Homo sapiens: one gene and its partners. The protein of the gene in region 1 purifies or fractionates together with the protein of each later gene. This does not show direct contact. Each region holds a gene or a part of one and is shown in the gene's direction. Other genes may lie near its edges.

The links.
Region 2: the proteins of PGLS (region 1) and GCSH fractionate together in Homo sapiens (co-fractionation; one large-scale study listed by BioGRID). This does not show direct contact.
Region 3: the proteins of PGLS (region 1) and GLOD4 fractionate together in Homo sapiens (co-fractionation; one large-scale study listed by BioGRID). This does not show direct contact.
Region 4: the proteins of PGLS (region 1) and FDX1 fractionate together in Homo sapiens (co-fractionation; one large-scale study listed by BioGRID). This does not show direct contact.
Region 5: the proteins of PGLS (region 1) and IMPA2 fractionate together in Homo sapiens (co-fractionation; one large-scale study listed by BioGRID). This does not show direct contact.
Region 6: the proteins of PGLS (region 1) and TALDO1 fractionate together in Homo sapiens (co-fractionation; one large-scale study listed by BioGRID). This does not show direct contact.
Region 7: the proteins of PGLS (region 1) and CLIC4 fractionate together in Homo sapiens (co-fractionation; one large-scale study listed by BioGRID). This does not show direct contact.

The regions. Positions count from the first base shown.
Region 1 is NC_000019.10:17,518,149-17,521,648, forward strand, and holds the end of PGLS (6-phosphogluconolactonase), read left to right. Parts: intron 1-2,795; coding exon 2,796-2,933; 3' UTR 2,934-3,140; downstream 3,141-3,500. UniProt on the Homo sapiens protein: Hydrolysis of 6-phosphogluconolactone to 6-phosphogluconate.
Region 2 is NC_000016.10:81,089,896-81,093,395, reverse strand, and holds part of GCSH (glycine cleavage system H protein, mitochondrial precursor), read left to right. Parts: exon of another isoform or gene 1-2,305; coding exon of another isoform or gene 2,306-2,399; intron 2,400-2,715; coding exon 2,716-2,795; intron 2,796-3,500. UniProt on the Homo sapiens protein: The glycine cleavage system catalyzes the degradation of glycine. The H protein (GCSH) shuttles the methylamine group of glycine from the P protein (GLDC) to the T protein (GCST).
Region 3 is NC_000017.11:768,781-772,280, reverse strand, and holds part of GLOD4 (glyoxalase domain-containing protein 4), read left to right. Parts: intron 1-819; coding exon 820-956; intron 957-1,773; coding exon 1,774-1,860; intron 1,861-2,123; coding exon 2,124-2,237; intron 2,238-2,325; coding exon 2,326-2,412; intron 2,413-3,500.
Region 4 is NC_000011.10:110,428,538-110,432,747, forward strand, and holds the start of FDX1 (adrenodoxin, mitochondrial precursor), read left to right. Parts: upstream 1-1,410; 5' UTR 1,411-1,583; coding exon 1,584-1,768; intron 1,769-4,210.
Region 5 is NC_000018.10:12,002,007-12,005,506, forward strand, and holds part of IMPA2 (inositol monophosphatase 2), read left to right. Parts: intron 1-3,500. UniProt on the Homo sapiens protein: Phosphatase that can use myo-inositol monophosphates, myo-inositol 1,4-diphosphate, scyllo-inositol-1,4-diphosphate, glucose-1-phosphate, beta-glycerophosphate and 2'-AMP as substrates in vitro.
Region 6 is NC_000011.10:757,464-760,963, forward strand, and holds part of TALDO1 (transaldolase), read left to right. Parts: intron 1-1,486; coding exon 1,487-1,594; intron 1,595-2,658; coding exon 2,659-2,790; intron 2,791-3,500. UniProt on the Homo sapiens protein: Catalyzes the rate-limiting step of the non-oxidative phase in the pentose phosphate pathway. Catalyzes the reversible conversion of sedheptulose-7-phosphate and D-glyceraldehyde 3-phosphate into erythrose-4-phosphate and beta-D-fructose 6-phosphate.
Region 7 is NC_000001.11:24,814,947-24,818,446, forward strand, and holds part of CLIC4 (chloride intracellular channel protein 4), read left to right. Parts: intron 1-3,500. UniProt on the Homo sapiens protein: In the soluble state, catalyzes glutaredoxin-like thiol disulfide exchange reactions with reduced glutathione as electron donor. Can insert into membranes and form voltage-dependent multi-ion conductive channels.

The DNA.
Region 1 (3,500 bases):
ATTAAGTAGCAAACTATTGAAATAAATCAAGTGCTTTCCTGTAGAATTAGAAAAAGGACAATAATATAAATCTACAAAAGTCAGTGGCAGGACTAAGTGAAATTAAAGTCAGAAATTAATGAGTTGGTTAATATATTTTAAACTTTAATGGTAAGTAGATCTAAAAGATAGAAAAGCTCCTGACAAGGCTAATCAAGAGAAAAAAAAATCACGTGGTATTATGAATAAAAAAAGGTACTGTTATGTAAAGTATTTTAGGAAAATACAAATTCATTACAGCATTAAAAATAAACTAAATAATTAAAAAGGTTTTAGTTGCCTTCATTGAAAAGACCAACAACTACAGAAGAAACTGGAAATATATTTTTATTTTTTTTTTGTTTTTTGTGTTATTGTTGTTGAGACAGAGTCTCCCTCTGTCGCCAAGGCTGGAGTGCACTGATGTGACCTCAGCTCGCTACAATCTCTACCTCCCAGGTTCAAGCGGTTCTCCTGCCTCAGCCTCTTGACTAGCTGGGATTATAGGCGCCTGCCACCAGGCCTGGCTAATTTTTGTATTTTTAGTAGAGAGGGGGTTTCACCATGTTGGCCAGGCTGGTCTCAAACTGCTGACCTCATGTGATCCACCTGCCTTGGCCTCCCAAAGTGCTGGGATTACAGATATGAGTCACCGTGCCTAGCCTGGTTTTTACTTTTCTAAGTGGTTGGAAAAAAGTCAAATGAAGAGCCAGGCCATGCTTATCATCCCATCTACTCAGGAGGCTAAGGCAGGAGGATTACTCGAGCTCAGGAGTTCGAAGCTATAGTGAAATGTAATTGCAACTGTGAATTACCACTGCACTGGGGAACATCACGAGAACTCATCTCCAAAAAAAATAAATCAGGCGGGGCGCGGTGGCTTATGCCTGTAATCCCAGCACTTTGGGAGGCTGAGGCAGGCGGATCACCTGAGGTCAGGAGTTCAAGACCAGCCTGGCCAACATGGCGAAACCCTGTCTCTACTAAAAATACAAAAATTAGCCAGGCGTGGTGGCGTGCGCCTGTAGTCCCAGCTACTCAGGAGCCTGAGGCAGGAGAATCACTTGAACCCGGGAGGCGGAGGTTGCTGTGGGCCGAGATCATGCCATTGCACTCCAGCCTGGGCGACAAGAACGAAACTCAGTCTCAAAAAAAAAAAAAAATCAAATGAATAATACTCCTTGACCTTGTGAAGATTCTATGAAGTTCAGATTACAGTGTCCAGAAATTGTTTTGTTTGTTTGTTTTTTTGAGACAGCTTCTCACCCTGTCATCCAAGCTGGAGTGCAGTGGCGCCATCTCAGCTCACTGCAACCTCCACCTCCCGGGTTCAAGTGCTTCTCCTGCCTCAGCCTCCCAAGTAGCTGGGATTACAGGCACCTGCCACCACGCCCAGCTAATTTTTGTATTTTTAGTAGAGACAGGGTTTCACAACATTGGCCAGGCTGGTCTCAAACTCCCAACCTCAAGTGATCCGCCCCCCTCGGCCTCCCAAAGTGCTGGGATTACAGGCATGAACCACCGCACCCGGCCCAGAAAAGTTTTATTGGAACATAGCAACACCCGCTTATGTATATATTGTCTGCAGCTGTTCTGGGGCCAGAACTGCAGAGCTGAGTGGTTGCAATAGAGACTGGATGGTCTGCAGAGCTTAATCTATTGACTCTGGTCTTTTGCTGAAAAAGGGTGCCAACCGCAGTATTAAACAGTTACAGACCAGGCACAGTGGCTCATGCCTGCACTTTGGGAGGCTGAGGCAGGAGGATTGCTTGAGTCTAGGAGTTTGAGACTAGTCTTGGCAACATAGCAAGACCCTGTCTCTACAAAAAATAAAAAATTAGCTGGGCACAGTGCCATGTGCCTGTGGTCCCAGATACTTGGCAGACTGAGGCAAGAGGATCACTTGAGCCTCAGAGATTGAGGCTGCAGTGAGCCTTGATGCCGTCACTGTACTCCAGCCTGGATGACAGCGCAAGACCTTGTCTCAAAAAAAATGCAAATAGTTACAGTGGGCGGGGCATGGTGGCTCAACGTGGGAGTTCAAGACCAGCCTGGCTAATATGGTGAAACCCCGTCTCTACTAAAAATATAAAAAATTAGGCCAGGCGCGGTGGCTAACGCCTGTAATCCCAGCACTTTGGGAGACCTAGGCGGGTGGATCACCTGAGTTCAGGAGTTCTAGACCAGCCTGACCAACATGATGAAACCGTCTCTACCAAAAACAAAAAAATTAGCCAGGTGTGGTGGGAGGCGCCTGTAATCCCAGCTACTTGGGGGGCCGAGGCAGGAGAATTGCTTGAAACCGGGAGGCGGAAGTTGCAGTGAGCCAAGATCGCACCATCACGCCATCACACTCCAGCCTGGGGGATAAGATCGAGAGTTCATCTCAAAAAAAAAAAAAAAAAAAAAAAAAACTTAGCCGAGCGTGGTGGCACTTGCCTGTAATCCCAGCTACTCAGGAGGCTGAGGCAGAAGAATCGCTTGAAACCGGGAGGCGGAGGTTGCCGTGAGCCAAGATCGTACCACTGCACTCCAGCCTGGGAGACAGAGTGAGACTCCATCTCAAAATAAATAAATAAATAAATAAAAATAGTTACAGTGGATAGAAAGGAAGGGACTCTTGTCCCTGCTGTTTGGCACTAGGACAGCTGAGCTGGGCATTGTCACATTTTGAGGATACAAGAGTCTTATTTATCCTTGGTTGGGGAGCCAGGAGAGTGCCGAGGGGCGGTGCCTGGGCCGCAGGCAGGGCCTTACTCTTCTGCCCTCTTCTTCAGCGCATTTTGGAGGACCAGGAGGAAAACCCGCTGCCCGCCGCCCTGGTCCAGCCCCACACCGGGAAACTGTGCTGGTTCTTGGACGAGGCGGCCGCCCGCCTCCTGACCGTGCCCTTCGAGAAGCATTCCACTTTGTAGCTGGCCAGAGGGACGCCGCAGCTGGGACCAGGCACGCGGCCCATGGGGCTGGGCCCCTGCTGGCCGCCACTCTCCGGGCTCTCCTTTCAAAAAGCCACGTCGTGCTGCTGCTGGAAGCCAACAGCCTCCGGCCAGCAGCCCTACCCGGGGCTCAACACACAGGCTGTGGCTCTGGACATCCGGATATTAAAAGGAGCGTTGCTGGAAGTCTGCACTGTCTCGCGGTGTTTGATGGCAGCAGGCCTGGGGGCGCCCTGGCCTGGGTTCTGATCCATAGCCCTCATCTGTGGGGAGGAAGGCGGGGCCTGCTTCCCTGGGGCATAGCCACCATGGATGAATTTCCTAAGACAACAGGCTGGGCACAGTGGCTCACGCCTGTCATCCCAGCACTTCGGGAGGATGAGGTGGGCAAATCACTTGAGGTCAGGAGTTCGAGACTAGCCTGGCCAACATAGTGAAATCTCTTCTCTACTAAAAATACAAAAATTAGCTGGGCGCGGTGGCTCACACCTGTAATCCCAGCACTTTGGGAGGCCGAGGCTGGTGGATCACGAGGTCGGGAGTTCG
Region 2 (3,500 bases), on another chromosome or scaffold:
GCAGCCTTACTCCTAAAATTATCTTCACAGGTAGGCAAGATGGCAAGGTCAAAGAAGGTAGTCTCAGGTGGTGTTTATAGTTGTCCAGTGCTTACTTTGAAAAGGTGTTTTAGCTTCAAACTGCTCATAATTGGCATATAACCGGCGATTTGTAGCAGAGTGAGAGAATTAAGTGTTAAAGACAAATAACTATATACTATCTATTTTCCTCAGAATCCTCTTAATAAACTTTAAAAAATCACGTCATTCTGCAACTTTTTTTTTTTTTTTTTGGAGATGAAGTTTCGCTAGTCGCCCAGGCAATGGTGCAATCTCGGCTCACTGGAATCTCCGCCTCCCAGGTTCAAGTGATTCTCCTGCCTCAGCCTCCCAAGTAGCTAGGATTATAGGCGTGTACCACTACACCTGGCTAATTTTTGTATTTTTAGTAGGGACTTGGTTTCACCATGCTGGCCAGGCTGGTCTTGACCTCCTTACGTCAGGTGATCCGCCTGCCTTGGCCTCCCAAAGTGCTGGGATTGCAGGCATGAGCCACTGTGCCCGGCCTGCAACATGATAATTTAAGGGGAAAAATATATATATTTTTCTCCCAAAGTGTTGAGATTACAGGCATGAGCCACCACGCCCAGGGATTTTTTTTGTTTGTTTTTTTTGAGACTGAGTCTTGCTCTGTTGCTTAGGCTGGAGTGCAGTGGCGTGATCTCAGCTCACTGCAACCTCTGCCTCCTGGGTTCAAGCAATTCTCATGCCTCAGCTTCCCAAGTCGCTGGCATTACAGGAGTGTGCCACCACACCTGGCTAATTTTTGTATTTTTTTAGTAGAGATGTGGTTTCACTATGCTGGCCAGGCTGGTCTCAAACCCCGGACCTCAGGTGATCCACCCGCCTCGGCCTCCCAAAGTGCTGGGATTACACGCATGAGTCACTGTGCCTGGCCTGCGACATGATAATTTAAGGAAAAAAAAAATTATTTCATTCCTTCAGCTTTTGAGTGCTTGCTATGTGGCAAGCACTGTATTTAAAATTGGGAAAACAAATGAAAATAAGATAAACCTTGCTGTTTCTTGGTGGGTACACAGCCTACTTCCTGGGGAGACTGACAGATGATCTCTAGTATGTTCAGCACCGTGTGTGTGCTGGGGGATAGTGGTACAGGGTGCCGTAAGAGCATGTTGGCTGGCCTAAGAACCTAGACTTGGTTAGACAAGCCTTTGGGCAGGAACGGACTTCTGAATCTAGACCGGAAGTAGTTAGTAAAGATGGTAGGGAGAGTCTTTCAGTCAAAACACAGTGTACACATCTTAAACTTTCTTACCTGAACGTCAGAGTGACCTGAAACATTCAGTTCTTTGAAGTGGAATGAAGCAAAATAAATTTCTTAGTGACACATTTTTTGACTTCTTCCACTGAAGGGGTATGAACTTTAGAAAGTTTCATAATTAAGGGGAAAAGAAAGCAATATTGAATTATATACTTGGCTAGGCACGGTGGCTCACACACTATTATCCCAGCACTGTGAGAGGTTGAGGTGGGAGGATCATGAGCTCAGGAATTTGAGACCAGTCTGGACAACATAGACCCCCCCATCTCTACAAAAATAAAAAATAAAAATAATAATTATACACTCTACTTACGTTGTGCTGCGTATCAGAGCTGTAACCAAAGCAATTGAATGCTGTTTTAAGTACTACTATCCTTTGGGTAAGGGGTAAAATGAGCCAGTGAGGCCTCTTTAAAACAGTATTTGAGTTAACCATTTTTCTATGAACTTACGTTGCATTGTTTTTAGAAAAATACTTGGTGTCAGAATATGAACTGTATTTAATATAGCATATGCTTTTTAAAAAATATTATTCTCTAAGGCAAGTACTTTTAACTTTATATCCTAAATAACTCTTTTTACTCTTGAACATTGGCCGGTCCTTCTTTCAGGATTCCCTGAATCGTTTGACCGTATCTTTAGAGAAGTGCTCAGTAAGTCGAGGGCTGAACCTGTCCAGTGAGTGGTGAGCAGAGCTTGATTCTCCACCAACCCATGGCTTAGCTCTGAGAAGACTGTTGAGTTGTGATCTTAATTTTCTTCTTTAAGCGATGGTAGTGCTATCTTCAAGGTTAGGCTTGAATTTGATTAAAGTAGAATTTTAAGAACTTAGTCAAATTATAGTTGTTCCAGGAGGTCAGTTTCATTCCTGTAAAATTTTACTTTGTAACCCAAGCTGCACTGAAGCTCTCTTAGGTCAACTCTGCCTAAAGAGGCACCTGATTATTACTGTTATTTTTTTTTTTAGGTTAAATCATTTCTTATATGAGCCATCTTTATGCTGCCTCCCTAAACCTCATCACCCCAAATTTGTCTTCAGAGGCACAGATTTTTTTTTCTGCAAGACAGACCAGTAATAGTTAAGTATACATTTGAAATATGCTCCAAAATTTTCTTTTGTGATTTAGGCTAAGTAATGTTAAAGCAGATAATCCAATCTCCAAAAGATGCACAAGGTGTTCAGATGAAGCCATCTTTGCTTAAATGGTACTGCTGTTTAAATGCGTCATCTCTATACATGATCTTCATTCTTTCCTGAGCCATGCACTATTTAAAGGTAGTGTCAACAGGTCAAACAGAAATTCTGGGAAAGTCTTTTGAAAGCAATGGTAATGAAAAGTGCTTCTTAAGAAGTAATGCTACTGCTTTTCTGAAATGTTGGTCTTCTGTTTTAGTGCGTAAATTCACAGAGAAACACGAATGGGTAACAACAGAAAATGGCATTGGAACAGTGGGAATCAGCAATTTTGCACAGGTATTGGATTATATTGAAATATTTGTCCCAGTGTGCTCTTGCATGATTTGCTTTATCTCTACCTTTTTAAAAGTGTTTAGGCTGCGTGAGGTGGCTCATGCCTGTAATCCCAACACTTTGGGAGGCTGAGGCAGGAGGATTGCTTGAGGCCAGGAGTTCAAGACCAGCCTGGTCAACAAAGTGAGACCCCGTCTCTACCAAAAGTTAAAAAAAAAAATTAGCCTGGCATGGTTGCTCATGCCTGTGGTCCCAGCTACTCAGGAGGCTAAGGCAGGAGGGTCGCTGGAGCCCAGGAGGTTGAGGCTGCAGTGAACCATGATCATGTCACTGCAAAATACAAAAATTAGCTGGTCTTGGTGGTGCACACCTGTAATCCCAGCTCGTCAGGAGGCTGAGACAGAAGAATCACTTGAACCTGGGAGGCAGAAGTTGCAGTAAGCCGAGATTGCACCACTACACTCTAGCCTGGGTGACAGAGTGAGACTCCATCTCCAAAAAAAAAAAGAAAGAAAGAAAGTAAGAAAACCAACCAGAGTTGAATTAAGTAAAACATAATTTAGTTAGGGCATTATGTGGTGTTTTAAGAGATGTTGCAAGCTTAACACTGAAAGTAGGAAACATGTCCTATTCAAGAAGGAAATGTGTGTGTTTTGTACTGGGCAATTAAGGAAAGAGGAAAAAGAAGAGCAGGGTGTTGCCACCATT
Region 3 (3,500 bases), on another chromosome or scaffold:
TTCTTACCAAATGATTAGCCAGTCTTCTTAGCGCCGTCCATTGAATAATGAGGCTTTTCATACTGTCTTTGTTTTTTTTTTTTTTTTTTTTTTCGAGATAGGGTCTCACTGTCACCCAGGCTGGAGTGCAGTAGTGCAGTCTTGGCTCACTGCAGCCTCAACCTCCCGGGCTCAAGCGATCCTCCTGCTTCCATCTCTGAAGTGGCTGGGAATACACACATGAGCCACCACGCCTGTCTAATCTTTTTTTTTTTTTTTTTTTTTTTTGAGACAGAGTTTTGCTCTTGTCTCCCAGGCTAGAGTGCAACGGCGCCATCTCGGCTCACTGCAACCTCCGCCTCCCAGGTTCAAGCAATTCTCCTGTCTCAGCCTCCCGAGTAGCTGGGATTACAGGCGTGCGCCACCACGCCCAGCTAATTTTTTTTATTTTTTATTTTTAGTAGAGACAGGGTTTTGCCATGTTGGCCAGGCTGGTCTCAAACTCCTGACCTCAGGTAATCCACTTGCCTTGGCCTCCCAAAGTGCTGGGATTACAGGCATCAGCCACCACACCCAGCCAATTTTTTTAAAGTTTTCATACAGGCAAGGTCTCAGTGTTTTACCTGCATTGGTCTTGAATTCCTAGGCTCACGCAATCCTCCTACCTCAGTCTCCCAAAGTGCTGGCATTACAGGCATGGGCCGCTGCACCCAGCTTCATACTGGCTTAAAATCCCTTTCTTATCATAAACTGAATTTGTAAGTATACATGCGCATGTTTTGGTCTTTCTATTTTATTCTATTAAATTGATCTGTCTATTCCTGCTTTATTACCCAACAGATCCTGTATTAAAAGTAACTCTAGCAGTGTCTGATCTTCAAAAGTCCTTGAACTACTGGTGTAATCTACTGGGAATGAAAATTTATGAAAAAGATGAAGAAAAGCAAAGGGCTTTGCTGGGCTATGCTGATAACCAGGTGAGCAATCTTGGAGAAGAATAACCTGTTACTTTGAATTTGGCTTGTAAACGAAGCTTATAAATGGCTTATAACCTTTATAAATGAAGTTAACATGAAGGTTGTTCCCATAGTTTCTTCACAGTGATTCAATATTTATATAGATAAACAGAAGAAAATAAGTGATAACCTTACCACCCAGATATTACCTTGTTTATATTTGGGGATATATCTCTTCAGAAGTGGAATTGCTTAATCCAAGAGATTGAATGGATTTAATGCAAGATCTTTTTCATCTTCTTTTTCTAATAACCCAGCGTTTGAGCACGATTTAGTCCTTGCACTTTGACCCTGCAATTCTACTCCTAGGAATTATTTTACAGATGTGCTCAACATACATCGGCACAAAGAAGTGTGTGCAAGGTTATCTGCTGCAGCATTGTCTGTAATCACAATGTGTAAGAATTTCAGTGTCCTATAGATTAGAGACATATTTCAGTAATTTACGGCTCATTCATGGAATGGATTACTATGTCGCTAGCAAAAAGATTGAGGCAAATCTTTATGTATTGACATGGTAACATTAAGTGGAGAAAAACAAGGAACAGAATAATTTGTAAATTATACCACCATTTGTGTAAAAAAAAAAACATAGATGCGTGCAGTGCTTCTAGAAGGATACACAGGAAAGTGTGGACTAGTTGTCTCTGGGGTGAGAGTAGGATAGAGACTCAGTTTTTACTTTATTCCTTTAGTATATAATATTTGAATTTTTCTACCACATACGTGTAATGAATGTATAACCTGTTCCAAAAAATAACCCCCTTTCCTATTTCAGTGTAAGCTGGAGCTACAGGGCGTCAAGGGTGGGGTGGACCATGCAGCAGCTTTTGGAAGAATTGCCTTCTCTTGCCCCCAGAAAGAGGTAACGCTTGATACCAGATCGTTTGAGCTTTCTGACTAGCTAGTTCAACCCAGCTAAGAACTTTGTCCTTCCCTTCTTGAGGTCCTTTTTGATTGTGGCTTTAGTATCAAGTTCAGCAGTTGTTTCAAGAGCAGCTGAGATAATAAATTCAAACAAATGGCGCCTTGGTTCTTTATGGTATCTGATACTCCTCTAGGACTGACGAGGGCCGTGTCCTGAGTAGTGTGTGACCCCTGGCTCACGTTGCCTCTGTTTTCCTCAAGTTGCCAGACTTAGAAGACTTGATGAAAAGGGAGAACCAGAAGATTCTGACTCCCCTGGTGAGCCTGGACACCCCAGGGAAAGCAACAGTACAGGTGGTCATTCTGGCCGACCCTGTAAGTATTTCTCAGGCAGGGGGCAGGCTGGACCAGGGGTTTCTTCAAGGATGTCTTTGGCAGGTGTCTTTTCTCTTTATTGGTGTAGGACGGACATGAAATTTGCTTTGTCGGGGATGAAGCATTTCGAGAACTTTCTAAGATGGATCCAGAGGGAAGCAAATTGTTGGATGATGTGAGTCCCATTTCTACATTTATGTCACCATGGGCCTGAGAGGGATGGCATTAAGTGTGTGTGGGAGGAGACTAAGCAACAGGGTCCAGGTTCTTAATGTCAGAACCACGTCCTTTCGCTGTTGGGTTGACCTCAGCCAAGGACCGATGTCTTCACTGCCACCTGTGTAGACTGCTTGTCTAGACTTAGCATTTGTGCCTTACCACAACCTCAGGCTGCCCTGGAACCACTGCTGGTGGATCTGTGCTTATTCTGCTCTCCACATGGAGATGCCTCTATCCGACCCCCTCAGCTCTCCCCATGGAGATGCCTCCATCCGACCCCCTCAGCTCTCCCCATGGAGATGCCTCCATCCGACCCCCTCAGCTCTCTGCATGGAGATGCCTCCATCTGACCCCCTCAGCTCTCCCCATGGAGATGCCTCTATCCGTTCCCCTCAGCTCTCGCCAGGGAGATGCCTCCATCCGACCCCCTCAGCTCTCCCCATGGAGATGCCTCCATCCGTTCCCCTCAGCTCTCCGCATGGAGATGCCTCCATCCCATCCCCTCAGCTCTTGCCATGGAGATGCCTCCATCCGTTCCCCTCAGCTCTCCCCATGGAGATGCCTCCATCCCATCCCCTCAGCTCTCCCCGTGGAGATGCCTCCATCTGACCCCCTCAGCTCTCCCCATGGAGATGCCTCCATCCGTTCCCCTCAGCTCTCCCCAGGGAGATGCCTCCATCTGATCCCCTCAGCTCTGCAGCTCCTTTGATCATCTCTTCTCCATTCTGCAGCATCAGTCTCTTCTTTCCAGTGAGTTATTCTCGCCAGCGTGCAAACAGGCGCTGAAAGCTCCCATCCTTTAAAAACCTTTTACTGACCCCATATCTCCTCTCCAGATTTCTCCTTCTAAAAATCTGAGTGCGCACTGTTTCTCTCTCTCACATCCTCTCCAGATTTCTTCTTCTAAAAATCTGAGTGCGCGCTGTTTCTCTCTCTCACATCCTCTCCAGATTTCTTCTAAAAATCTGAGTGCGCGCTGTTTCTCTCTCTCACGTCCTCTCCAGATTTCTTCTTCTAAAAATCTGAGTGCGCGCTGTTTCTCTC
Region 4 (4,210 bases), on another chromosome or scaffold:
TTTGCTACAGGAGGGCTGAGAGAAGACAGAACATCTACGATTTTTTTTCTTTTCAATTCTCTTCCTACAACTAATTCATCCGACCTTGGAAGTTTGGTCTTACTAAAAACAAAAGTTAGCTGTTCTTTTACAACCTCCTCTTCAAGATTACTTGTCAGGGTTTGCTGTGCCCTTCGCAGCTTGAAAGACTTTCTCTTCATCCAACGATTTGAGGCAATTAGGAGCCACTGCCTTCTCTCTGCCATTGGGTTCCAGAAAGCACCATACATTGTCCGCAGATACTTTACTCATGCTTACACTTTCTTGTTCTGAATCTTCAAAAATTAGTGGCGTGTGGTGGCACACGCCTGTAGTCCTAGCTACTCGGGAGGCTGAGGCAGGAGAATCACTTGAACCTGGGAGGCGGAGGTTGCAGTGAGCCGAGATTTCGCCACTGCACTACAGCCTGGGCAGAATAGAGAGACCCCATGTCAAAAAAAGAAAAAAAAAGTATCTGATTGTGTTTAGCATATCTGCAATATCCCCTTGACTTTGGCCTTTAGCCTCTTTATGAGTACCCTGATGGAGGAAGGCCCAGGAAGCGGTAGCCTTCCTGGTTTGTGACGCACGGTGTGCATTGCGTATTAGATTAACATCAGAATGGCCCTGAAGGCTGGAACATCTTATCTGTGTTTGAGAGTTATGGAAACTCTGATCCTCCATGAGAATAATTTTTCCAAGGTCTCAGATCTCTAAAGCAGTAGATCTTGGATCTGAACATTGCTATTTCTGACCTTAAAGCCCATGCATTTCCCACAACATATGAACCATGATAAGGTGTATTTTAAAGTTCATCTTTTCTGTTTTTTGTGAAAGTCTTTTAGAGATCTCAGCTCATCACAAAGTTTCCGGTTCAGTCTCGTGGGTTTCATGTACTCAGCCAGCATTTACTTGCCAGTCAAGGTCTAGGATGGCTACCTGTCCTCTGCAGGAGCCCCAAGCCTATTCATTAATTTCATTTACAATTTTATAGTCATAATTATTTCTTTGTATAATAGCATTCTGAGATTTTCCAAAATTTCCCACTGTTTTTGTTTTACAGTGGGCAGAATTCACTTTGCTCTAACTTGACTCCAAGATGACACAATTTCCCAGTTTTTTTTTTAACGGCTAGGGGATGGGGGTATGCGGAACAGAACACAGTGGTCTAGCTAACCGATTTCCGCTAGACGTCCAGCTATCTTTCAAAATATTTTGTTTCTGCACGGCAACTTCAGCCGCTAAAAAAGCATCCAGCTTACAACGGAACCTGGAGGGTTGGTAAAGGCCCCCTGCGCTGGCCCCGCCCCATGGGACCGGGCGGCGTGGGCGTGAGAGGCGGGGCGGGGCCGCGCTCTGCTTGCCAATGTCTTTATAGGTCACCCGGAAGGCACGCGGAACCTCGGCGCGGTGCTTCCAGCAGGGTCTCTCCGCCACTCCAGCCCCGCGCCCCTCGCCGCGGCCCTCGGGCGTCTGCGCCGCAGCTGCCGCCCCCGCCTCTTTGGAGTCTCTCGCGGCCTCAAAGCGCGGCCTGCGTCGCTTCCGGCAGTTCCCGACCGCGGGCGATGGCTGCCGCTGGGGGCGCCCGGCTGCTGCGCGCCGCTTCTGCTGTCCTCGGCGGCCCGGCCGGCCGGTGGCTGCACCACGCTGGGTCCCGCGCTGGATCCAGCGGCCTGCTGAGGAACCGGGGGCCGGGCGGGAGCGCGGAGGCGAGCCGGTCGCTGAGCGTGTCGGCGCGGGCCCGGAGCAGGTAGGGCGCCGTGCGGGCGCGATCGCCGGCGCGGGCCGGGGTCCCCGGTGGGTGGCGCCTGGCTCTCTGGGCCGAGTCTCTGGTTCCAGTGCCTTCTGCGCGCCGGGCCCACACCCCGGAGGCCTGCCTCTCGCCCCCCTCTTCTGGGGTGCTCTCGCGGCTCCGTCTCGCTGCTCGGTGGCGTCGCTGCCTCCCTTCCGTCGCACCGCAGAGTTCCTTTCCGCATCACCCACTCCCGGCGGGAATCGGGGACCCTGGACGCCCAGCTCCCTTTCCCAGCGCTTCCCGTGCCCTGAGGAAAGCCGGGACTTTGCTGCTGCTTGTTCTCCGTGTGATTTGTCTGGGATCTGACCTTTGCTCTGCCCGAAACTGGCAGTGACCTTCGCGACAGGCTTCCCTCCTGCTGTCCTGGCCTGACACACCTGCCAGCTGTTTTTTTCAGGGCCTTGCCCTGCTTTGAGAGGACACCCAGGTCCCAGGTCTTTGTCAGGGGGTGTCCAGGTAGAATACACCCAGCCCATACCCTCTGCTGCCCTGTAGGCCCTTTGCTAGTTGCTCAAGTGTTGAAAGCCCCTGCGTTGAAGTAATCTGCCGGGACTTGAAACTTGGCTTTGGCACTGATTGTCTGACGTGCCTAACTTGGTCAGTCCTTAGGAACCCAGTTTCTCCATTTGCAAGTTGGATATAATAACAGTGTAGACCTCCTATGGTTAATTGAAGAATCAATGAGTTAATACAGCGATACAGGTAGTCTTGTGCCTAGCACGTAATGAGGGCTCAGTAGATGCCACTTGGTAGCAGCAGCAGCAGCAGCAGCAGCAGCAGCAGCAGCTTCTTAGGTTCACAATGTTAAGAGAGTTTTGTATTAAATATTGAAAGAAATGTGACAATTTATCCCAAATGTGTTGAAGTTTTAGGTTCTTGGGCATATTTGTTTTTCAAAGACACTCCTTAGATATACTAGAGATACAATTTACACATAATTTTTACCAACATGGTGGCGATTTATATAATGCAGATCTCTCGACAGCTCTTTGACCGCATGATGTAGGGTAGCAGGAATCGAGAACTAGAGGGAGAGTGTGTTGGATTTGTACGCTGCTTTGTCTAGTTTCTTTTTGAGGTCTCTGAGAGCAGGGTCTAAGACTTTCAGTCATCTTTTCCCCACTAATCCCGTTATCTAGTGGGTGCTCCATACATTTTTGTTGTGTGAACTTTGGGGGAAATCAGGGAGAAGGCAAGCCAGATTTATTTGTTCCTGTTTCCTCTGCACTTCCCCCCCTGTCTTTGACCAGTGTGGGTACCTTGCTTTCTGTTATACAATGGATGAGTTTTGGACAACTGAATCAATTGGGACAGATATTGAACATGCTTGTGTAACTGGTATAAGGGAACATGAATGTTTTTGTAGTAATTGGGAGTTATCTTTCTCAGATTTGTTTTTTGGATTTGGATATGTCAGGTTGTTTTAAAGGGGAGCACGTCTATTTCCTCATAATCCTGCTGCCCTCTTTATTGGCACAATTTCTATTCATGGTCTTATCATTCCTCTTACAGACTTTGGAGCTACAACTGGATTTTCCAGTTCTTACTGTGTTAATGAGACTTGTGCTGTAACTACCGTAACTACTAATCACATGTGGCTATTGAAGTTTAACATAATTAAAGGTAAATAAAATTAAAGATTCAATCTCGTAGTTACACTAGCCACATTTCGAGTTCTCAGTAGCCACATGTGGCTAGTGGCTACTGTATTGGACATTGCAAGTATGTGTAGAACATCTTTGTTATGGCACAAAGTTCTTATAGACAGACAGAGCAGTTCTAGAAACTGTAGTTCTGTCTTTGAAGTTTAACAACTCGATAAGCTATCAGTAATTGAGAGTCAGAAAAACTCCTTTTACTCTAAAATACCGTGACACAAGGGGGTTTGCAGTGATTCAGGTAGCAAAGATCTTTCACGTGTATTGTTTCGTATGACTCTTAAGACAATTCTATGAGGTAGGGAGGGTAGATAAATGGGAATAAAAATTTCATATTAAGTAGCTGGCAAAACTAGGACTAGAACTCAAGAAGTTTTTGCGGATTTTAAAAAAATTTTAAATTTCTATTTATTTTTAAAATTTCAGTAGTTTTGGGGGCACAGGTGGTGTTTGGTTAATGGGTTAGTTCTTTAGTGGTGATTTTGGAGGTGTTGGTGTACTCTTCACCTGAGTGCAGTGGTGCCATCATGGCTCACTGCAGCCTACACCTCCCAGGTTCAAGCGATTCTCGTGCCTCAGCCACCCGAATATCTGGGATTACAGGCGCGTGCCACCACACTCGGCTAAGTTTTGTAGTTTTAGTAGAGATGAGATTTCACTATGTTGACCAGCCTGGTCTGGAACCCCTGGCCTCAAGTAATCTGCCTGCTTCAGCCTCCCAAAGTATTGGGATTACAGG
Region 5 (3,500 bases), on another chromosome or scaffold:
GCCTCAAAAATTGACATCAAATGCAGTTGTTTTTCAACATATTTATGTGAAGTGAGTTTTTTTTGCCAATGACTAAGATTAAAAAGAAAGTAAATTTTGGGGATTTAATTGTATTTTAGATCATAGAAAAGTTGATAAATTTGTGATGAGAGAAAATTGTATACATATTGTAAAATAGGACATTGTGATTTTTTTCTGCTTTCTAAGTATTTAAATATATCCCTTAAACAATATATTTAATTTGAAGTTGCCTCTCATCCTCCTTTAGGAAAGACTTTTATTCTGAGCTTTTCTCTTTCCTTGATTTTAGTCTTTCATGAAATGATATTAAAAATAGACTTAATAACATTTTTTTAAAAACCTGATACAGGCTCCCCAGTTTTATTATTTTATTTCACTCATCCATGAAATCCAAAGGTTTGCTCCTTGACCTGGAAGACAGGTGTAGACTGAATCAAAGAATGATAAGGTTTAAACTTCCTTCTGGTGGGGTGCAGTGGCTCATGTCTGTAATACTAGCACTTCAGGAGCCCAAGGTCAGAGGATTGCTTGAGCCCAGGAGTTTGAGACCAGCCTGGGCAACATGGTGAATCCCCATCTCTACAAAAAAATTAAAAAATCAGCTGGGCATGCTGGTGCACGCTTATGCTCCCAGCTACTTGGAAGGCTGAGGTGAGAGGCTCGCTTGAGTCCTGGAGGTCGAGTTGTGATGCTGCCACTGCAGTCTAGCCTGGGTGACAGAGCAAGACCTTGTCTCAAAAAAAAAAAAAAAAAATGTAGATTAAAAGGAACCCTTGCAGACTGTTGGTGAGAATGTAAATTGATGCAGCCGCTATGAAAAACCCCACTGCACTGCAGCCTGGGCAACAGAGTGAGACCCTGCCTCAAAACAAAAAAATAAATAGGCTGGGCGCGGTGGTTTACACCTGTAATCCCTGCACTTTGGGAGGCCGAGGCGGGTGGATCACCTGAGGTCAGGAGTTCGAGACCAGCCTGGCCAACATGGTGAAACCCCCATCTCTACTAAAAATACAAAAAATTAGCTGGGCATGGTAGTGCGTGCCTGTAATCCCAGCTACTCAGGAGGCTGAGGCAGGAGAATCGCTTGAACCTGGGAGGTGGAGGTTACAGTGAGCTGAGATCACGCCACTGCACTCCAGCCTGGGGAACAAGAGCAAAACTCTGTCTCAAAAAATAAAAAATAAATAAATAAAATTGCTTCTGTCACTGGCCCTAGCAGCTTTGGCAAATCTCACCACTTAGGGCCTCGAACTCCTCACCTGTGAATGAGGGACCTGACCATGGTCATCCCTGAAGTCCCAGCATTTAACTCGTAACATGACAAAAAGCAAACCAGGGCTGGGCACAGAGGCTCACACCTGTAATCCCAGCACTTTCAGAGGCCGAGGTGGGTGGATAGCTTGAGATCAGGAGTTCGAGACCAGCTTGGCCAATATGATGAAACCCCGTCTCTACTAAAAATAGGAAAACAAATTAGCTGGGCCATGGTGGCGCATGCCTGTAGTCCCAGCTACTTGGAAGGTTGAGACAGGAGAATCGCTTGAACCTGGGAAGTGGAGGTTGCAGTGAGCTGAGATTGCACCATTGCACTCCAGCCTGGGCATCTCAGTGAGACTCCATCTTAAAAAAAAAAAAAAGAAAAGGAAAAAAAAAAAAAAAGGCAGCATGGTAAGGCCGGGTTTTTATAGATTGGGTCTTTGGAGTGTGCTGTTGGCCTTGGCCACATAGCTGTCTCCTGCCATGCCCTGGCTTTGTGGGGCGCCTAAACCTGTTTTCAGATGATGATTTTGAGTGAGATACAAGTGTAGCTACTTGGAAAAGATTCAGTAGCATCCCTGAGCTATAGTGATAGAAACCCCGTCCTTGTCCCTTCTGTGGAGCAGCCTGTTGGAGCTTCTCTGGGTTGGCCTAGGCCCAGAGATGAGGTCAGCAGCTCAAGGGTCTAGTGTTTTTAGCTGTCTTCCCAGCCCTGCTCCAGAGCCCCCATGTAACCTGCTGCCCTGCAGTGCCCAGCACAGAGCAGTGTCTGTTGAATGCGTGAGTCAAGCAAAACATCAAACAGAATCCTTGACATGGGAAAAACATGCTCCCAGCCACCACCAGCTGAACATTGACATCCAGCTGCTTTCCCACTGGGCAGTGGCTTGTGAAGATGGGGACAGAGTATCATAAATCATCTCCTTTGTGGACAGCAGGGATGATCCTGACCTTCTTGTCACAGACTAAACAGACTAAGTAGCCAGAAGAAAAAAAAAGAAAGAAAGAAAAAAGGGGCTTAAAGGCACTCAGCTGTCAAAATTATAAGGAGGGTTTGTTAAAACTATTTTTTAAAAAAGAAAAGTGGTTAAGTTATGCAGTAGGATATAATATTCTATAATAACTTATTACCAAACTTTTAGCCTTAATCCAGTTGCTATTTTCCTCTTGTCTATTGGATAGACGTATGGAATGTTCTTTTTTTCCCTAAATTTAGTCATGTGCATTTTTTTTCCTATTTATATTGTGGGTTTTTTTTTTTTTTGAGATGGAGTCTTGCTCTGTAGCCCAGACTGGAGTGCAGTGGTGCAATCTCTGCTCACTGCAACCTCCGCCTCCCGGGTTCAAGCGATTCTCCTGCCTTCCAAGTATCTGGGATTACAGGCATGCACCACTATGTCTGGGTAATTTTCATATTTTTAGTAGAGACGGGGTTTCACCATGTTGGCCAGTCTGGTCTTGAACTCCTGACCTCAAGTGATCCACCCACCTCAGCCTCCCAAAGTGCTGGGATTACAGGCGTGAGCCACCGTGCCCTGCCTATATTGTGGATTCTATGTAGATGTTCCAGTGGCTTTTAGGAAGGTCTTTATGATTTCACACATCTGTCTACAGTCATGTCTGCAGAGCAGACTCTCCCCACTCCCTCTGCAGACAGCTGTAAAACATTGTCTTTCATCTCACAGGTATTAGCTTCCTACATGAGTAAAATCAGGTTTAAGTGAATAAAAATTGTGCATCTCTTCCCATGTACCAGGGAAGTATTTTTGGTGCCTCCAAAGACCGAGCACGGTTCACGCCTCTGCTGGCCTTCACACCGCTGCAGCCACACAGTGCAGAAGCCTGCTCCCTGCTGCCCACAAGCATGAGGCAGGTGGGAAGGGGGATGCTCGTGCCACCTTGTAGGCGGGCAGGCAGTCTCATGGGCAGAGGTGTACACAAGGTGGGTGATGAGGAAGACAGCTCTAGGGTATGAATGATCAGCTGCTGAAAAACATCCAGTGCTCAGTGTGGGTACTTAGAGTTATTCTCATAAAAAATGTGAGGCAGAGTTAGTCAGGTGTGGTGATGCATGCCTGTGGTCCCAGCTACTCAGGAGGCTGAGGCAGGAGGATTGCTTGAGCCCAGTGGTTTGTGGCTTCAGTGAGCCATGATTGTGCCACTGCACTCCAGCCTGGCTGACAAAGCGAGACCATGTCTCCAAGAAAAAAAAAAAAAATTTC
Region 6 (3,500 bases), on another chromosome or scaffold:
TGTATTTGTTTTTAGAGGCAGGGTTTCACCATGTTGCCCTAGCTGGTTTCGAACTCCTGAGCTTGAGCAGTCTGCCCACCTTGGCCTGCCAGGGTGCTGTGATTACAGGCGTGAGCCACTGCACCCAGTCTGGCCCAAGAATTCTAACCTCTGAGCGTCTAGCTGAAGATCTTCCTGTGTGTAGTGGGCTAACAAGGCTGCTCAGATTTTGGAACAGAATCATGGACTTCACTGGGTGTCTGTCCAATAACTTTGAAGAGATAGAAAATATAATATTTTGCAAGTGCCAAAAGATAGAGGGATGCAGTTTGGGATGATGAAAAGAGCTCTGGAGATGGATGGTGATGGTTGTACAGAACTGTGAATGTGCTGAATACATTTTAAAATGGTGGGCTGGGGGCAGTGGTGCACGCCTGTAACCCCAGTGCTTTGGTAGGCCAAGATGGGAGGATCCCTTCAGCCTAAGAGTTCGAGAACAGTCTAGGCAATAGGGCAAAACTCTGTCTCTACAAAAAAATATAAAAATTAGCTGGGCATGGGCCAGGCGTGGTGGCTCACGCCTGTAATCCCAGCACTTTGAGAGGCCAAGACAGGCGGATCACGAGGTCAGGAGATCGAGACCATCCTGGCTAACACGGTGAAACCCCGTCTCCACCAAAAATACAAAAAAATTAGCCGGGCACAGTGGCGGGCGCCTGTAGTCCCAGCTACTCAGGAGGTTGAGGCAGGAGAATGGCGTGAACCGCGGGGGGCAGAGCTGGCAGAGCCGAGATTGTGCCACTGCACTCCAGCCTGGGCGACAGAGTGACACTCCATCTCAACAAAACAAAAAAATTAGCCAGGTATAGAGGTGTGCAGCTGTAGTCCCAGCTACTTGGGAGGCTGAGGCAGGAGGATCACTTGAGCCCGGGAGGTCAAGGCTGTAATGAGCCATAATCACACTACTGTGCTTCCAGCCTTAGCTGGAGACCCTGTCTTGGGGGAAAAAAAAAAGGATAAGATGGGAAATTTTATGTTATATGTATTATTTGGCCACAATAAAAAAATGTTTTAAGAGAAAAAAAAAGATGGAGGGAAGGAAATTTGGCAAAGAAATAACAGAATTTATTTTGTAGAGTCTTGTGCACTTGAACCTCAGAAGCTTCTTTTTTTTTTTCTTGAGATGGAGTCTCGCTCTGTCGCTCAGGCTGGAGTGCAGTGGCACGATCTCTGCTCACTGCAAGCTCCACCTCCCAGGTTCACGTCATTCTCCTGCCTCAGCCTCCCTAGTAACTAGGACTACAGGCACCCGCCACCATGCCCAGCTAATTTTTTAATATTTTTAGTGGAGACGGGGTTTCACCGTGTTAGCCAGGATGGTCTTGATCTCCTGACCTCATGATCCGCCCACCTCGGCCTCCCAAAGTGCTGGGATTACAGGCGTGAGCCACCGCACCTGGCGAACCTCAGAAGCTTCTAACCTGCTTTTTTTCCCTTTGAATTTCAGGTCACAAGAGGACCAGATTAAAAATGCTATTGATAAACTTTTTGTGTTGTTTGGAGCAGAAATACTAAAGAAGATTCCGGGCCGAGTATCCACAGAAGTAGACGCAAGGTAAGGATGCTTGCTCCTGCACTGGATGGGCTGGTCAGGTGTCCACAGTTGCACACGTGGATGCCAACATGAGGTCAAGGGGCTGCTCCACCCATGGTCTTCATCCCAAGGGCCCAAGAGGAGGTTTATTTTGAGCTCTCCCACAGTTGGTAGTGATGACCAAGAGCTCCTTGTTTAGCAACTGATCTCTAGTGTTTTTTATTTTTATTTTTATTTATTTTTGAGATGGAGTCTCGCACTGTCACCCAGGCTGGAGTACAGTGGCGCAATCTCAGCTCACTGCAACCTCTGTCTCCCGGCTTGAAGCGTTTCTCTGCCTCAGCCTCCCAAGTAGCTGAGATTACAGGCACCTGCCACCATGCCCAGCTAATTTGTTGTATTTTTAATAGAGATGGGGTTTGACCATTTTGGCCAGGCTGGTCTTGAACTCCTGACGTCATGATCCACCTGCCTCGGCCTCCCAAAGTGCTGGGATCACAGGCATGAGCCACTGTGCCCGGCTGCTAGTGTTTTTTGTTTTGATTTGTTTTGTTTGTTTTTTGAGACAGAGTCTCGCTCTGTTGCCAGTGTAGAGTGCAGTGGTGTGATCTCAGCTCACTGCAACCTTCACCTCCCGGGTTCAAGCGATTCTCCTGCCTCAGCCTCCCAAGTAGCTGGGACTACAGACACCCGCCACCATACCCAGCTAATTTTTTTGTATTTTTAGTAGCGACAGGGTTTCACCATGTTGGCCAGGATGGTCTCGATCCCTTGACCTTGTGATCTTCCCGCCTCAGCCTCCCAAAGTGTTGGGATTACAGGCGTGAGCCACGGCACCTGGCCCAGTGTTTTTTAATACAAATTATAGCCTATGGATCCCACTGAGGACCTCTGTTTGTGAGACTGGGTGTGAGTTGCTGTCAGAGCCATTCTGCAAACCTCCAGTGAGGGGAAGGTTGAGGGCAGTGGTTGGTGCTCACGGTGGTGCTGCTCAAAACTGACAGGCAGACACCCGGCCTCCAGCTTGCTCTGCGTGGTGGGCAACCTGCGTGATCTGAGGGGATGGGTTCTTCTTGCTCCTACAGGCTCTCCTTTGATAAAGATGCGATGGTGGCCAGAGCCAGGCGGCTCATCGAGCTCTACAAGGAAGCTGGGATCAGCAAGGACCGAATTCTTATAAAGCTGTCATCAACCTGGGAAGGAATTCAGGCTGGAAAGTAAGTGGTCCCCCACAAGGAAGGAGCTCTCAGAGATTTTTCCTCTGTTGGAGCAGGGTCTACATGGCATCAGGCAAGTTTGACTCTCTCAGCCCTGGGGAATGCCAGACTGGGGAGCACAGCCCACAGCTTGGACTTGACCAGCTCATGTCAGCCTAGATCTGCCCTCTGCTCCAGAGCCAGCTCCCTCACTTGCTGGTGATCAGAAATGAGGGATTTCCCAGGAAGTACCATCCACCCACTCAGCAGAGAAGAAAAGCCACTAGTTAGCACCTGCAGATTCAGATTCTGTCCTTCCTCTGTCCTGATCAACACAAGCCTATGTTTACATGATTTTTAAAAAGTAAACTATTGTTATATAAAATATATGCTGGCTGGGCAAGATGGCTCATGCCTGTAATCCCAGCAATTTGGGAGGCTGAGATGGGAGGATCACTTGAGCCCAGGAGTTCCAGACCAGCCTGGGCAACAAAGTGAAACCTTGTCTCTACAAAAATATAAAGAAATTTTAGGCTGGGCACGGTGGCTCCCAGCACTTTGGGAGGCCGAGGCGTGGGGATCACGAGGTCAGGAGATCGAGACCATCCTGGCTAACACGGTGAAACCCCGACTCCACTAAAAAATATAAAAAATTAGCCGGGCATGGTGGCACACACCTGTAGTCCCATTTAGGAGGCTGAGGCAGGAGAATTGCTTGAACCCAGGAGGCG
Region 7 (3,500 bases), on another chromosome or scaffold:
TTTCCAGGAATGGGATTATTGAGATGGAGGGTTCTAAAATAATTATAGGCATACCCTGAAGGGTATGGTTCCAGACCATTGCGAGTTAGGTTCCAGACCACAGTGATAAAATGAATATTGGAATAAAATGAGTCACGTGAAATTTTTCGTTTCCCAGTGCATGTAAAAGTTATATTTACAGTAGTATACTGTAGTGTTTTAAGTGTGCAATAATAGCATTATGTCTGAAAATATTGCATGTACCTTAATTTAAAAATACTTCATTGCTAGGCTGGGTGTGGTGGCTCATGCCTGTAATCCCAGCACTTTGGGAGGCTGAGGCGGATGGATCACCTGAGGTTGGGAGTTCGAGACCAGTCTGACCAACATGAAGAAACCCCGTCTCTACTAAAAAATACAAAAAAAATTAGCTGGGCGTGGTGGCAGGCACCTGTAATCCCAGCTACTCGGGAGGCTGAGGCAGGAGAATTGCTTGAACCAGGGAGGCAGAGGTTGTAGTGAGCCAAGATCGTGCCACTGCACTCCAGCCTGGGTGACAAAAGCAAAACTCCGTCTCAAAAAAAAATCATTGCTAAAAAATGCTAATGGTTATCTGAGCCTTCAGCGAGTCAATCTTTTTGCCGATGGAGGGTCTTGCCTTGATGTAGCTGGCTACTGACCGATCAGAATGGTGATTGCTGGTTGGGGTGGCTGTGGCAATTTCTTGAAGTAAGATAACAATGAATTTTTCTACATTGATGGACTCTTCCTTTCATGAAAGATTTCTCTGTAACATGCAATAGTGTTTGATAGCATTTAAAAATTTTAAAGTAAATATTCTTTGCCTGAGGCTAATCTCAAGAGGTCCTGAGAACATGCACCCCTGTTTGATAGTGTTTTTACCCACAGTAGAACCTTTTTCAAAATTAGAATCCATCTTCTGAAACCCTCCTGCTGTTTTAACAACTAAGTCGATGTAATATTCTAAATTCCTTGTTGTCATTTCAACAATGTTCTTAGCATCTTCACTAGGTATACATTCTATCTCAAGAAACCATTTTCTTTGCTCATCATAAGAAGCAACTCCTCATCCATTCAAATTTTATTATGAAGGTAGAACAATTTGATTACATTTTCAGGCTCCAGTTCTAATTCTAGTTCTCTTGCTATTTTCAACACATATGTAGTTCCTCCCTCCACTGATGTCTTGAACCTGTGAATGTCGTCCATGAGGGTTAGAATCCACTTCCTCCAAACTCCTGTTAATGTTGCTATTTTGACCTCCTCCCATGAATCATGAATGTTCGTGTTTTTTTTTTTTTTTTTTTTTTGGACGGAGTTTTCGTTCTTATCGCCCAGGCTGGAGTGCAGTGATGCGATCTCGGCTCACTGCAACCTCCACCTCCCAGGTTCAAGCAATTCTCCTGCTTCAGCCTCCTGAGTAGCTGGGATTACAGGTGCCTGCCGCCATGACCAGCTAATTTTTTTGTATTTTTTAGTAGAGTTGGGGTTTTGCCATTTTGGCCAGGCTGGTCTTGAACTCCTGACCTCAGATGATCCGCCCGTCTCGGCCTCCCAAAGTGCTGGGATTACAGGTGTGGTATGAGCCACCAGACCTGGCTGAATGTTCTTAATTGCATCTAGAAAGGTAAATCTTTTCCAGGTCACTTTGCTTTGCTCAGATCCATCAGAGGAATCACTTTCTATGGCCTTATGAAATGTGTTTATTAAATAATAAGACTTGAAAGTCAAAATTTATGGACTGCAGAATGGATGTTGTGTTAGCAGGCATGAAAACAACCATGATCTCCCTGTATATCTCTATCAGAGTTCTGGGGGGACTAGTGCATTGTCAATGAGCAGTAATATTTAGAAAGGAATCTTTTTTTCCTGGGCAGTGGGTCTCAACAGTGGGCTTAAAATATTTAGTAAACCATACTGTGAACAGATGGATGTGCCATTATCCAGGCTTTATTGTTCCATTTATAGAGCATCTGTAGAGTAGCTTCAGTATAATTCTTAAGGGTTCTTCAAATTTTGGAATGGAAGATGAGCATGGGTTTCAACCTAATGTCAACAGCTGGATTAGACTCTTAACAGAGTCAGCCTGTCCTTTGAAGATTTGAAACCAGACGTTGACTTTTTCTCTGTAGCTATGAAAATCATAGATGACATCTTTCAATAGAAGGTTTTGTCTGCATTAAAAATCTGTTTAGTGTAGCCACCTTCATCAATGATCTATCTAGAAGATCAATTCTAGATAGATCATTGTTGAAGGTAGATCAGATTTTCTAGATAGATCATCAGATGAAGGTGATGAAGGAAGATCTAGATAGATCAGCTAGATCTTCTAGATAGATCAGCTAGATCTTCTAGATAGATCAGCTAGATCTTCTAGATAACTGGCTGCATGCAGCTTCTGCATAAGCATTTGCTGCTTCATGTTTTACTTTTATGTTACAAAGATGGCCTCTTTCCTTAAACCTCACGAACCAACCTCTGCTACCTTCAAACTTTCTTCTGTAGATTTGTCACCTCTCTCTGCCTTGATAGAACTGAAGTGAGTTAGGGCCTTGATCTGGATTAGGTTTTGGCTTAAGGGAATGCTGTGGCTGGTTTGATTATCTGGACCACTCAAACTTTCTCCCTATTGGCAATAAAGCTGTTTTTCTCTATCATTTGTGTGTTCACTGGAATAGCACTATTAAATTTCCTTCAAGAACTTTTCTTCTGTATATGCTGTTTGGCTGTTTGGTGGAAGAAGTCTAGCTTTCAGCCTATCTCAGCTTTTGGCCTGTCTCAGCTTTCGACATGCTTTCCTCACTAAGCAGAATCATTTCTAGCTTTTGATTTAAAGTGAGAGATATGTGACTCTTCCCTTCACCTGAACACTGAGAGGTCATTGTAGGGTCATCAACTGTGGGCTAATTTCAACATTATTTTGTCTCAGGGAGCAGGAAGGCCTGAGGAGAGGGAAAGACAGGGGAACAGCAATCACTGGAGCAGTCAGAACACATATGATATTAATCAGTTAAGTGTGCTGTCTTATATGGGTGTGGTTTGTGGTGCCCCCAAAACAATTACAAGAGTAACATCAGAGATCACTAATCACAGATCATCATAACAGATACAATAATAATGAAAAGTTTTGAAATATTGCGAAAAATACCACAGTGTGACAGAGACATGAAGTGAGCACATGCTGCTGGGAAAAATGGCGCCATCTTGCTTGACTCAGGGTGCCATAAACCTTCAATTTGTAAAAAACGTAATATCTGCAAAGCACAATGAAGCAAAGCTCAATAAAGCAAAGCACAATAAGACAAGTTATACCTGAAGTTACTCAATTTGGTTTTTTTTTGTTTGTTTTGTTTTTTTTGAGACAGAGGCTCACTCTGTCACCCAGGCTGGAGTGCAGTGGCACAATCTTGGCTCACTACAACCTCTGCCTCCTGGGTTCAAGTGATTCTTGTGCTTCAGCCTCCCAAGTAGCTGGGATTACAGGCACCTGCCACCATGCC